Linked DNA regions of Homo sapiens. The protein of the gene in region 1 interacts with the protein of each later gene in a biochemical or structural test. Each region holds a gene or a part of one and is shown on either strand. Other genes may lie near its edges. The genes, in order: TNC and SMOC2.

Region 1 (7,277 bases):
GATCACTTGAGATCAGGAGTTCAAAACCAGCCTGGCCAACATGGTGAAATCCTGTCTCTACTAAAAATACAAAATGAACAGGTAAATATTTGTCCCCCTATGTTGAAATTTATGATTATGCAACTTCAAATGTTGGAATGTTTGTTCTAAAATAAGAAGAAATAAAGCAGACAATTCCCAAATTTAGATAAACAAAAGAGCAGTGAAAAAAAAAGTTCAGTGCACCTCCTCCATAGCAACTAAGCATTTGCTTTGTCTTTTCTTTGTCTTTCTGGTGATCTAATGATTTTTTTTTCCTGTTGGTACCTGCTTTTCTACCTACCACAGAGAGGTGGTGTCAGGATGATGGAAAACACTTGCTTATGAAAGAGAAAATCCTTTGAATTGGCTCTGAGCTAGGCAAAATGTGCAAATATTTAAATGCAAGATGTTCTTTCTTGTCATTAGCAACTGATTTAATTTTTCCAACAACCCCCTGCCAAGAAGAGTCGATTACTTAAAGAGTTGGCGCATATGTTATCTTGAAGAAAATAAAGAGGTTTTCCTATATGGAAGTGCAAAATTATGCATTTTTTTCTTTTTAAAAAATTGCAGCTGTGCACGGTGGCTCACGCCTGTAATCCTAGCACTTTAGGAGGCCGAGGCGGGTGGATCACTTGAGGTCAGGAGTTGGAAACCAGCCTGGCCAACATGCTGAAACCCCATCTCTACTAAAATACAAAAAAATTAGCCAGATGTGGTGGTGGGAGCCTGTAATCCCAGCTACTTGGGAGACTAAGGCAGGAGAATCACTTGAACCTGGGAGGCAGAGATTGCAGTGAACTGAGATCGTTCCACTGCACTCCAGCCTGGGTGACAGAAAAAAAAAAAAAAAATGTTTCCTGGTGGAGCAACTCCAAATTCAGGTCTTTTTCTCACCAAATGATCTAGTACTGCTAAATCCTATTCTACTCCCAAGAACTTCTGACATCATTAGTATTGAATGAAATTTTATTTAGGTTCCCATTGAAGAGATGGAATCAACATTCTACATAAACCAGAGCCTAGTCAATGTTAGTGGAAATGGGGTTAAAGTTATAAAACTTACCCTGGCTTAAAGTTATGCCCCTGATGGTGTTAACTATGGGATGTTAAAGTGATTTAGCTTCTTTAAGCCTTAACATTAATATTTTCCCTTCCTCTGTCCTACAACTGGGTGCTAATATTAAACTAGTGACATGATGCTAATTAGATTGTTAGCAATGGGCTTAATTATCTTCAGGTAGTCACACCCCTTTGAAAGGAGATTTTGAAACTCCTTTCATCAAGAGATGGATCTGTTTCTCTATTCCTTAAATATAAACTGGCCGTGGGATGTGCTTTGATAGAAGTGATCTAATGCCAATTTTGAACCTGTTCAATAGCTGTGTGAACAGGACCAGCATCCTGGAGAATGAGAGGCTCTGCGAAACAGAAAGACACCATCCTGGCTGAGGCCATCCTAGGCCAATCCACCCCTTAAGCACACAGATACATGAGGAGTGCAGTCAAGAACAGATAAGCTGCTCAGCTGAGCCCAAACCCAAATCACCAACATGCAAAGAATTGTTATTTTAAACCACTGTATCTGGATTTTTAAAAATGCAGCAAAAGTTAAATGATGTAGATGCTATATGAGAAGGCACTTTCTCAACCAGGAGGTGCTATGAGGTACAATCAGCCTTATCATTCTATAAGTATTAAAGGTGATACTCACGTGTGGTGGTCACCCTCTTCAGGCCAGGGCCCCGGGTATTGTTTTTCACTATGTGCAGAGATATCTCATACTCTTGCCCAGGAGCTAGACCAGTTTGCCGGTAAGAGGTCTCTGGCCTCCTCAGGCTTTTGGTGATCTCTCCCTCATCTTCTTTATTCTGAGAGATAGAGGCAGCTTGGTAAGAGTTAGGGGAGGTGCCAGTCTCTTAATTTATGTGATTCATTCACTCTGCATTCATTCATTCCTCTGTTATTCTTTCATCGATTCATTAGGCACTTACTATGCATCAGATCAGTATGTAAGCTACTGAGGATACAGAGATGATAAAGACATTTCTCTAGTTTGTTTCTCCCATTCGTAAACTTTTACCCCTTTGTCATGCAAGTCAAATGACAGAATGTGAGAGCCAAAGGAATTCTGAAGGCACAAGCTCAATCCCTCCTTGGGTAGACTGAGGCCAGCATCAGAGGAGTAGGGTGATTGTTGGATAGTCACACAGCTGGTTGGTGGCAGAGCCTGGGCTTAAATTCAGAGAACAAGTTCCCTGCTTCACATGTACTTTTGGGCCTGGAGAGAAGGGTTGCTCAAATCTGAGATGTACCTTTATTTTGAGGGAGAGACTGTTTCTTCTCTTCTTTGCCTCTGAGTAGAGATTTCTAAGGTGATGATGGACAATTGGAACCTTGAGGTGACAACTTCTATTTGTCTAGGGTGTCAGCCGTAAGTGCTACACTTACTTATTAAAATCAGGGAAAAACCAACATCCCTTAAAATATAGATGCAAACACAAATGATGCTAATGAGAGCCTTGTCCTCCACCAAAAACTAAGGAAAATTAGTTGATACAGAAGTCTTCAGAACCCTTTGGTCATCTTTCAAATCCTTGAGATCAAATGGATCTGCTCTTTTGTACTCCTTACCATATTCCGGAAGATGATCTCCCAGGTTTCAAAAGCAATGTCTAGAGGATCCCACTCCACTTCCACAGATGTCTCCTTGATGGACTTGAATTTCAGGCCTTCAGGTGCAGGTAAGTCTGTAAGTAACAACATAAATAGAACGTAAGGATAGGGCAGGTGTGTGATTGGGCAACGCGGCCACGATTCCACTAAACCAGACTGGATGTCTGCAACAGTCAGGGGCTGACAACCAGAGCAGGTGTCCTTTTAAAGCTTCTTCTGGGATGAGGTCTCTATGAGGCTGTATAAAAATTAATATTAGGAAAAATGGTATGATTAATTTTGGCAATTTCATATGTTTAAATCTAAAATGAACGCAGGCTTTGGAATCAGACAGACTTGGGGTTAGAATCTAAGCTCTACTATCAATGTGAACTTGAGCAATTGCACACAGTGCTCTAAGCCTGAGTTTCTTCACTTGGAAAAAGAAGGTAAATATGTCTACTTCTTGGGAATGCATTGAGGAGTGAGTGATATACTCCACTCCAGTGTGTAGACTGCTGGGCCTGGTTCGTGGCATGCAGAACAAGTTGAATAAATGGCAGCCAATGTTATTATTAAGGAAAAAAGGGTCAATTTCTAGCCAGAGCTTGCTTTTTAGATATGAAGGTAATTATACTGATGCTAAACTCATAAACCAGAATGTTTCCACTTAAAGAAAAATAGTCAGTGATCTCCACTGAAAAGTAATAGAGTGGTTTAGAACATAAACCTGCCAGGACTGCCAGGGTTAAAGTTTTGCCTCTACTCCTTGTTAGCTGCATGACTTGGGATAAGATGCTTAACCATGCAGTCTCAGTTTCCTCATCTGTAAAATGGGGTTAACAATAGCTCCTATTTCATACATATACTAACTCATATAATGAGGACTCTTTTTTTTTTTTTTTTTTCTTGAGACAGAGTCTCAATCTGTCACCCAGGCTGGAGTACAGTGGCATGATCTCAGCTCACTACAAACTCTGCCTCCTGGTTTCAAGCTATTCTCTGCCTCAGCCTCCTGAGTAGCCGGGATTACAGGCATGCACCACCAGGCCCGACTAATTTTTGTATTTTTAGTAGAGACAGGGTTTCGCCATGCTGGCCAGGCTGGTCTTGAACTCGTGACCCCAGGTGATCCACCTACTTTGGCCTCCCAAAGTGCTAGGATTACGGGCATGAGCCACCATGCCCGGCCAAATGAGGACTCTTATACTAATATGTAGACTGCTTACAACAAAGTCTGATACACAGTAAACACTTGCTAAATGTTACTTGTAATGATTTTCTCTGGCAGGAAGTATATAGGAGAGCAAGGAGAAAGATTTGATGGAAAATGAGGGATTTCTTTAATAAGTGATTCTATGGACTTAATTCTAGGCTCTTATTTGGTATAACTGTAAAGAACAACTATAGGATTGTAGGGGCCGTGGCGAGGGAGGGTTATACACTGGGTGGGCTGACATCAGGTGAGGCTGCCCAAAAGAGTTCTGCTCACTCACACGTGGCCACCCTGGCGCTGACAGGAATGCTCTTCTTGTTCTCCAGGATGGCAAATACACGGATAAAGTACTCCACACCAGGCTCCAGCTCCTGGATGATGGTGGACGTCTGGTCCCCAGGCACACGGAACTGCATTTCCAGACCACCCTCGTGGGTGGGCGTGTACACGACAAGGTACTCTGTGACCCGCATCTCATTGTCCCAGGCCAGGTTGACCGTCTCTTCCGTCACTTCTGTCACAACGAGGTCTTTGGGAGGAGACACTGGCAGGAATAAGAAAGGACATCTGGTGTCAACAGTGTGTCCTCTAAAATCTCTCTAGGTTTGTTTGACCTGTCTTTTCCACTGTCAGCCACAGAGGTCTGAAGATCTTCTGTTGCCTCTAAAATGCAGATGGCATCAGGGACCCCCTGCTGTGATCCATCTTAAGACCTGTGGTGGCTGTTCCTTAGTCCATTTCCTTCAGGCTGGAGTCCCAGGTCAGCAGTGTGCCCTTGGGTGTTTCTGGCCTCTCCAACTTTCTGTGCTTCCTGGGTCTTAGCTCAGATGCAGGCTGTTGGCATGGGAAAGTGCAGTCTGAGCCTCACTCCCTGCTCTGAACTTTGAGTTACGTGTCCCTAGCACTGGGAGGGTATTTTGGGCATATCTGGTCCAACTTTCTTATATTATAGAGGTGAGTAAGACAGAACGCCTTGACCAAGCTTGCTCACCTCATCAAGTTTAGAACTTGTATCTCCTCCCTGCCAGCCTGGTGTTCTTTCCAACCAGGCTTCCCTGCTTGCGCCACATTGAACACAAAGCCATTTATTTATGTTTAGATACCAATAACTTTAGTAAAGGAAAAAATTCTCCATTATGACAATGATAATATGGGTAGATGAGAGGAGTACAAAGAAGACACTCATTAAATATGAGCATTAATTTTCTCTCCTGTGTTTTCACTTAACCAGGGTTTACTAAGCACTTAATATGTACCAGGTCCCATACTAACTGCTAGAAATAGTGCCCTTTTAAGGATAGGAGCTTGCAGTCTTTAGGATTAAAAAAACAAAACAATCAAAAAAACAAAACCAGTTACAAAAGACAATGAAAAGACAGGTCAATCTTGTAGATAATAGGCATTTCGTCTTTAGCCAAGTATGCATTTGAAACAGTTGTTTTTATGTAATCTCACTGCGTATTCAATTTAGCTGAATTTTTACATCCATCCAAATACAGAGATTTTGTTTACTGTTGGTTTGATGTCAGTGGAGAGTAGGAAATAAAGTTGATATTTAGCAAAAGAGAGAGTATCCCTTTATCTACCTCATCTTGAACACTAGATGTGTTCTGGCCTCTCCAACTTTATTTTAAACTCTATGTAGATGAGTTAGGCAGACTTGAATACCAGCTCTGTGATGTGTCAGCTGTGTGTCCCTGGGACAATTATATAACCTCTCTGAGCCCTTCAGCCCTTAAATAGGTCACCTTGTAACAACGGAATGACAGGGCCCCCTTAAAAAGTCATTATGGGTGTGTGTTTAAATGGATATATTAATACGTACAAAGAATCAGTGTGCATGAATGTTTATATATATAAACGTAGTTTTCCAACCCATACTAGGAGTCCACTCCATCATGGCCATTATATGCTGGTCTGCGCCCTGGCACTCACCCTCTGAGCAGTCTTCTCCGCTGTAGCCCTCGTTGCAGATGCAGCGGCCCGAGACGCATTGTCCTAAGTTGTTGCAGTCACTGGGGCAGGAGTGCTGGCCACAGTCCAGGCCTGTGAAGCCCTCGTGGCAGATGCACTGGCCGTCCACGCAGCGGCCCTGGCCATGACAGTCACTGGGACATCTTTGCTCCTTGCAGTCTTTGCCCATAAATCCTTCATGGCACACGCACTGCCCATTCACACAGCGACCCTGGCCATGGCAGTCATTTGGACAGGAGAGTTCTGCACAGTCAGGGCCGGTGAAGCCGTCCTCACAGACGCACTGTCCGTCCACACAGAGGCCCCTGTTGCTGCAGTCCCTGGGGCATTGGCGATCCCGGCAGTCTTCCCCTGTGTAGCCGTCATCACAAACACACATGCCATTCACACAGCGGCCGTGCTGGTGACAGTCATTAGGGCAGCTCATGTCACTGCAGTCATAGCCCTTGAAGCCTTGCTCACATACACATTTGCCCTCGACACAGCGGCCCCGACTGTGACAGTCATTGGGGCACCGTAGCTGGCTGCAGTCCTCCCCAGTATAGCCCTCATCACACACACACTGCCCATTGACACAGCGGCCATGGCCACTGCAGCCATTGGGACACTTGAGCTCCCCACAGTCAGCTCCAGTGAAACCATCATCACACTCACACCGCCCGTCTACACAGCGGCCACGATTGTGACAGTCAGCAGGACACCTCTTCTCGCTGCAGTCCACACCGGCAAAGCCCTCATCACATACACACTGCCCCTCCTCACACCGGCCCTGGGTGTGGCAGGCATGTGGGCAGGTGGGTTTCCCGCAGTCTTCACCTGTGAAGCCTTCTTCGCAGTAGCAGGTGCCATTGATGCAGCGGCCCCGGTCGAAGCAGTCATTGGGGCAGATGAGCTCACTGCAGTCTTCGCCCGTGAAACCCTCATCACACACGCACTCATTCTCCACGCATCGTCCACGGTTGTAGCAATTGTTGAGACACAGAGGCTTGTTGCAGTCATCGCCTGCAAAGCCATCGTGGCACACACACAAGCCATCTACACATGTGCCGTGCTCCTCACTGCAGGGCACTGGGCAGATTTCACGGCTGCAGTCAGCCCCGGCGTAGCCTTCGAAACAGATGCAGACTCCATTTACGCACTTGCCCTGGTCATTGCAGTCGCTGGGGCAAGCCAGCTGGCTGCAGTCCTCGCCCGTGAAGCCGTCGTCACAGATGCACTGCCCATCAATGCACCGGCCTCGAAGGTGACAGTTGCCTGGACATTCGGGCTCAGAGCAGTTGGGGCCTTTCCAGCCAGGTTCGCAGACACAGCCACATCCTTCAGTGCTGAAGTTGCCCCGACCGCTACAGAAGGGCCTGGTGTCCAAGCGGCCTGCAACAAAAGAAACAGAAGTTCTCAGCCAGGCTTAAGC
Region 2 (7,277 bases), on another chromosome or scaffold:
TCCTAACATTTGGTTGGAGCTCAGGTAGAGGGTTGGTGAGTTCCTAACATTTGGTTGGAGCTCAGGTAGAGGGTTGGTGAGTTCCTAACATTTGGTTGGAGCTCAGGAGCAGGGTTGGTGAGTTCCTAACATCTGGTTGGAGCTCAGGTGCAGGGTTGGTGAGTTCCTAACATCTGGTTGGAGCTCAGGTGCAGGGTTGGTGAGTTCCTAACATCTGGTTGGAGCTCAGGTACAGGGTTGGTGAGTTCCTAACATTTGGTTGGAGCTCAGGTACAGGGTTGGTGAGTTCCTAACATTTGGTTGGAGCTCAGGAGCAGGGTTGGTGAGTTCCTAACATCTGGTTGGAGCTCAGGTGCAGGGTTGGTGAGTTCCTAACATCTGGTTGGAGCTCAGGTGCAGGGTTGGTGAGTTCCTAACATCTGGTTGGAGCTCAGGTGCAGGGTTGGTGAGTTCCTAACATCTGGTTGGAGCTCAGGTGCAGGGTTGGTGAGTTCCTAACATCTGGTTGGAGCTCAGGTGCAGGGTTGGTGAGTTCCTAACATCTGGTTGGAGCTCAGGTACAGGGGTGGTGAGTTCCTAACATCTGGTTGGAGCTCAGGTACAGGGTTGGTGAGTTCCTAACATTTGGTTGGAGCTCAGGTACAGGGGTGGTGAGTTCCTAACATTTGGTTGGAGCTCAGGTAGAGGGTTGGTGAGTTCCTAACATTTGGTTGGAGCTCAGGTAGAGGGTTGGTGAGTTCCTAACATTTGGTTGGAGCTCAGGAGCAGGGTTGGTGAGTTCCTAACATTTGGTTGGAGCTCAGGTGCAGGGTTGGTTATTCCAGTGGTTCCCAGGTTTGCACCTCAAATACCAGAAGACAATCCATTCTGGGGGAAGCCAACCGTGGTCTGAACAGTAAAAAGGCTCATTGCAAACCAACACGCAGTTCATGCCCTTTGAGCCTGGGCTCTCCTGGGCAAGTGGCATGTGATGAGTCGCCAATTATCATTATTATTTCTGCAAACAGACGCCCAACAATTAAACAGCATATTTGATTTTTTGCACTCCCAGGCCATAAACACAATCTGTAATTGTGTTTGTGAGAAGCAGACCTCCCAGGCCTCAGGGCCTGACCACTGCCCAGGGTCGGGGGTGGGAAAGCTCTTACTGTGGCGTTTCTTGGTGTCCGCTTTGCCGTCCTCTTTCGCCACGCCCAGGCAGCCCATCAGTTCTTGTACGGAGATGGATTTGTCATTATTCACGTCACAGTATTCAACAAACTTCTTCACACATTTTTTGGGCTTTGATTTTTTGCGAAGGAACCTCTTGAAGGGTTTGATTTCCTTTTTGCCGATGTCTCCACTGGAGTTTTTATCCAGTAGTTTGAAGTACCAGTGCACCACCCGCTCCTCTAGGGTATGGCTGGGGTCGGGTTCTGAGAGCCTGGAAGGAACACAGATGCCGTCAGGATGCTTAAACCCCTGGGCTGCTCCTTCCTGGCCACTGTCCTTCCCTCAAACCCATAACCCCTGCTTGTAGTTCTCATGGTCCTGGTGTCTCAGCCTGCAGCACTGGTCATCAGATATAACAATTTAAAGAAATAATTTAGAAGAACATTTTTAGCAAAGATTTTTCAGGTTGGATTCAAAATTGTAAATGATGCAGTGAATTTGTGCCCAGCAAAGATGCACTTGAAGGACAAAAGCCCCCTTATCCTGGCTTCTGTGTGCACAGGACTGGCAGGTCAGCACATGCAGCTATACCCGCCCGACACACCAGAACCCTGAGCTTTTCTAGCCCTGTAAATGTGATTCTTTTACACATCCTTCATGTCATAGGAATATCAGATGATGCAAATCAAAAACATTTTAAGTTGGGACTAGATATTTTTCCTTGGATTATGTTAGGTTCAATATTTTAGGGCATACATAAATAAACTCTTCTAGAAGGTGCGGATCTTTAAAAGTGCACCAAATGGCAGACACGCACCTTCTCCGTGAGATGGAGGGTGTGTGTGTGCGCATGGGATGGCCCTCCTGGAGGTGCTGGCCCCTGGATTCTGCCTGTTGGGATGAGCTGTACATTCCCAGGTATGAGAACACCGTGAACTCCGACACCATTGCCAATTTCTCAACCTTTCGGAGGATTTTCAGATAACAATCCATTTACTGCCATCAATTTTAGTTTGCATTTAGTTTAGTTTGCAATTTAGTTTAGTTAGCAATTCATTTACTGCCTTCATTTTTAGTTTGCAGTTTAGCTTAGTTTGCGAAAACAATCTTTCCAAGAATAGAAGATGTAAAGTTGAAATTTACATACAGTTTGACTCTATTAAAATTTTTTTTTTTTTTTTTTGAGACAGAGTTTTGCTCTTGTTGTCCTGGCTGAAGTGCAATGGTGTGGTCTTGGCTCACTGCAATCTCCGCCTCCCAGGTTCAAGTGATTCTCCTGCCTTAGCCTCCCGAGTAGCTGGGATTACAGGTGCCTGCCACCATGCTGGATTAAGTTTTGTATTTTTAGTAGGGATGGGTTTTCACCACGTTGGCCAGGCTGGTCTCGAACTCCTGACCTCAGGTGATCCACCTGCCTTGGCCTGCCAAAGTGTTGGGATTACAGGCGTGAGCCCCTGCGCCCGGCCTGCTCTATTAAATTTAATTTCCTACACATTCATGACATTTTCTGTTAGTATTGCCTTTTTATTTCCTTAAGTCTTCTTTAGCAGACAGACAGTGAGAGGAGAGGCTTTTAGTTCAGGAGACCAAAAAAATCACCTAAAGTGGCTGAGATAATCAAGGGTTTGGGTGTCAGGGGCTATGGGGAGAAAGGCCAACATTCTAAAGAAAGAAAAAAGATGAAATCTCCATCAAAACTTTATTTGAAAGAAACAGATAAACTATGGCTAGATCAGGGGGAATATCTGATGCTTGAGATGCCATCGCAGTAAAACCCTGGGGTTCTTCTGCTCTCCTGAGGCTGATCTACAGAGGGTGGAAAAGAGGAGTGTTGGAGAATTCACCGAAAGCCACTCCACCGAGCTCCAGGCCCCAGGTCCAGGAGTGCGGGAATGCCTACCAGGTACTCAAGGAACATCTCCAGGGTTCCAAAAATCCTATTTTGAACAGTGTGAATGTCTTTGATGTAACTGAATCACATGCCTGAAAGTGGTTAGGACAGCAAATGTATGTGCTGTACATTTTACTGCAGTAAACCTAATCACGTTTTGAGAACTTCAGATTAAACGTTGTCATTCAAAGTATTTACAATCCAATCGATGACTCTAAAGTGCAATTTCAAAGCACAAAGCCCTCTGCAGGAAGTGCTCCCCCTGCCCTGCTCCGCACCAAAAGGGCCAGGGTCAGAGCCCACTACCCCGCAGAGGCCCAGGAGTCACGGCTCAGGGCCATGTACCCCTATGGGAGTGTTTTCAGTGATTTAGTCTTGCTACAAGAAAACCTGCTAAGCAACTTCCTGTGTTTGCAGAAGGCTCCTTTTTAAGGCCCTACTGTGTCCAAATAAGCTGAGAAGGTTGCCAATATGTAATGTTCAGACTTTCCAGATTCCCCAGAATTCTGGGACCCTGCCAACTTGTTGTCCCACGGCGAACACAGCGTACCTGCCTGACGAGGAGGAGGGGTCGGAGGCGGCGTGGACCATGTCCGTGGACAGCGCGTCCAGAACGCTGGTCAGAAACTCATGCTTTTTGGCACCCGGACAACCTGAAAAACACGTGTATGTTTTCATAATTAACTCATAAAGCCTAACAGATTTTCCTCTAAAATACAGGGAAATGTTGTTTTACTGTTTGGAAATGAGTATTTTGGCCTACCTTAATCTTAATGAGCTAGTTTAAACACAAACACATTGCATTATATATATTGATTTTGAGCCATAGCTATTATTAATTCCTCTATTGTTTGAATTATTACGTGAGACTAAAATTCACAGGCATTAGTATCTCACTGATCTTCAGAACTGCAATCGGAGGTGGGCAGTGTCACTCATCCAGCGAGTGTGGCAGCAGAGGCACCGGGTGCTTAGGGACACGGGACATACGGAGTGCACGCTGAGAGCACATGAGGCTGGCCATCCCAGCAATCGAGGCCAGGGCCTGTGATTCACCGCCACCCCCACCCTGTCCAGAGCCACCTCGCTTCTCAGAGCAAAAGGAGGCAGTAGGGCAAACAGCAGGAGCTCCCCAACGCCCGTCTCCTGGGGACTTGTCCACACCACGGCATTGGCACGAACAGTCCACAGCAGGGTTTAGTGCTCATAGCTTTGGAGCCCAGCGCGGACTGTGTATGGATTCTGGGGTCAGGGAATAATTCAGGCACCCAACATTCTGCAGCGTGACTTTCCCCTCCATCCTTCCCTCAACACCACTCTCCTCTCCCACCGGTTAGGAATTCCCTGACACCATGCCTGAGACACTCGTCCCACCCCAAATTCAAGATAACATTTGAAAGAAGCCATCCACTTTCTCTGGGGTCTTTTCTCCTGAGACCGTTCCCGGTGCTACTGCCCCAGTAGCTGGACACAGGCAGCATCCCGTGTCCTTATGCCCAGGGTGGCATGGACAATGGACAACATAGGTCTCCTCTCTCTGGATGCCCTTTTGGCATAGAGAAGCAGCTCAGCTGCCCAATACATGCTTGCTGGATCAATAAGCAAATGCAAGAGGTAGGAGCCCCACCCTCGTTTCCCCGATGAGATCGGCGGGTTTAAGAGCTTCACAAGCAGGGAGCAAAATTTGCCGATTCCAACTGGGTCTATTTGTGTGTAAATATCCAGGGGAGAGGTGACAAACGGAGCTTGTTACCATTTACATTTTGTTAAATTTTTATAAAGAAAGCCCTTCCAGAGTTCAGTAGAAAGAGAAAGATACCGAGGGGAAAATAGAAGACAGAAGCCAGGCACCAGCCCTGGAGGGACAGCGTCCCCACTGAGCCACGCTGCACTCTCAGACTCCCTGCTGGGGAGGCTGCCTCTCCCTGGGGCTCTGCTGGGGCTAGGGACACCCACGGAGACTTCTGAGCCTGGAGAGCACCTCGGGCATTAGAACATCTGCTCGGACCGTCCTCACCACAGCAGGAAGGGAGTTTACACCACACACCTTCTGCCCAATTTAGATTCCATTTTTTACTAAGAAAAGTTTTAGACGGCCCCGCCAAAGGGAATCTCAGGAGCCCACTCAGTAAGTGGAGGACGCGGAGAGCTGCAGAGCCCAGGCAGAAAGCCGAGTGGGACTGAGGACGGCCCCTTCCCCGCCTTCCCCGTGGCCCTCAGAGGAAGGATTGTCTGAGATGAGGAGGGCTCTCTCTGGACTCCTCAGGCAACAGGACAGGCTGAGGGTGCCGTGGGGAAAGGCAGTGCCACACGTGATTCTCAGACCCCTGGGTCGAGGGCACGTTGGCGTGGACCACCCCTGGGTCAAGGGCACGTTGGCGTGGACCATGTGGCCGTGGTGTGGACAGCAGCCAAGTCGTTCGGAGACCAGCCTGTTTATGCAGTTAGGGACGCCCTGGTTTTCCTAGGTTTCTTTTTGACACTGGAGTTTTGTGTGATTGCTCTTGAAGCACACGTGAGCTGCCGATAGCAAGACTCCACAGTCATGCTGGCTTCCACTTCATTAAACACACATGTCAGAAAACAGATGTGCAGCCTTCACCAGGGGGGTTCTGAGAGTGCAAAAAGGTCTGTGTTAGTCTCTTTGCACACAACTGAAAAAGGAGATCAAAATCTATAGCAAAAAGCATCACGGCCACGGGGCAAATGCTACTTTCCAAGAAAGAAGTAACAGTCTCATCGAACATCCCCTCAGAAAGGCAGAGGACCTGAGGCTGCAGAGGCTGCTGGCCGCGGTGCTTCCAAAGCTGCCCAGCCCACCCGGCCTCGGCTCCCTGGGAGGGGCCTCCCGGTCTACAGAAGGCTGAGCTCCCCAGCTGCAGGACTAACCAGGAAGGGAAATGAGAAAAACAACTTGGAGGGCTGAAAATGCCTCCAGGGCACAGGCTCGGGAACACGTGGGCAGAAGCCCTGCCAGGCCAGCCGTCCAGGAGAACTTGTCCAGGGCGACGAGACAGGCGCCGGGGCAGGTGAGGCTGGGACCCACAGGACCTCGGGCACCTGCCTGCCAGGGCTGCTCTCTATGAATTTCCAGTCCTCCACTGGCCTCCAGAGATTCTGAGAGGAATATGGATTTGATGGAGAAGAATATTATTATCTGGGAGAAAAGGCGTTTTAGATAATCCTCAGTACTGAACAGCTTTAAGAAAGAATTATGTGGATATTTGGTGTGGTAATAGGGACACACCCAGGGGGATTTTTTTTGGCTGTTAATTTAATCATATTCCCCCAAATGAGATAAAGCAACACAATATTTCAAATGAGAAAATAATAGATGTTCATCACGAAACATGACTAACATAATATAAAAGCTGCAGGAGTCTTTAGTGCAAAAAGAAAAACTGAACATAAAAAGCATTATGTACTTCTAAAACAAGAAGCAGCAAATCAATCCTGCTCAGTCCCATGTCACAGTCACCCCAGGACCTGGAATAATGCTTGTTACTGATGACGGACGACTGTACTTCAAAACTACTTCTGAAGAAAAAAGGCGAACAAAAATGAAAGATTACAAGCAATCAGAAGAAAAAAACTAACTTTCATTATGTTAAAGTGAATGTTCACTGCATGAGAAATCACAGAAGTACCATGAAGTGAAAATTTCATCACCCTGAGATGTCCCAGATCTAGCAAACGCATGAGAGGAGCAACGAGGCTTGAGGTAAAAGAGAAACGACCCCAGAACAGCTGGGATTTCCCCACTGTTGCCCACAGGGAGCTATTCCGCTTCTCCCATGACAGCTGTGTCCGGCACGGTGATGGCTGCAGAGACCCTCGTCCCTCGCAGGGGCGCTGGCCCCCTGCCAACCCTTGCTGTAACTCCTCTGGCCCATCTTGATAGCAAAGCCACCCTTTGCTCTGGCATTTTGTGGTGTGTGATTCAGGCTGGGGAAGCTGCCCGCTGAGAACCTGTATGAGGAGCCTGGTGCTCTGGTGGGTCCTTTCTAGCACACTCCGCCCCCGGCCTTCTTCTCACTTAGCCGCCTGCACGGTGGGGTCTAACGGCCCCTGTAAATACTGCGTCATGGAAGGGTTGGCGTCAAAACTGCCGCATGCAGGCTCAGCGATGTACCCAGTCACCCTTTATTTTGGGACAGTTCCACTCACAGTAAGTTCTCCAACCACCCATTGAACTGAGTTCAGAAGTCTCAGGTCAACAGAGGCATAGCACGAA

What was found.
Region 2: the proteins of TNC (region 1) and SMOC2 form a complex in vitro, tested with the Homo sapiens proteins (one study listed by BioGRID).

Annotation. Positions count from the first base shown.
Region 1 is NC_000009.12:115,080,037-115,087,313, forward strand, and holds part of TNC (tenascin isoform 1 precursor), read right to left. Parts: intron 7,238-7,277; coding exon 5,828-7,237; intron 4,437-5,827; coding exon 4,173-4,436; intron 2,772-4,172; coding exon 2,656-2,771; intron 1,893-2,655; coding exon 1,736-1,892; intron 1-1,735. UniProt on the Homo sapiens protein: Extracellular matrix protein implicated in guidance of migrating neurons as well as axons during development, synaptic plasticity as well as neuronal regeneration. Promotes neurite outgrowth from cortical neurons grown on a monolayer of astrocytes.
Region 2 is NC_000006.12:168,647,100-168,654,376, reverse strand, and holds part of SMOC2 (SPARC-related modular calcium-binding protein 2 isoform 2 precursor), read right to left. Parts: intron 3,697-7,277; coding exon 3,594-3,696; intron 1,424-3,593; coding exon 1,149-1,423; intron 1-1,148. UniProt on the Homo sapiens protein: Promotes matrix assembly and cell adhesiveness. Can stimulate endothelial cell proliferation, migration, as well as angiogenesis.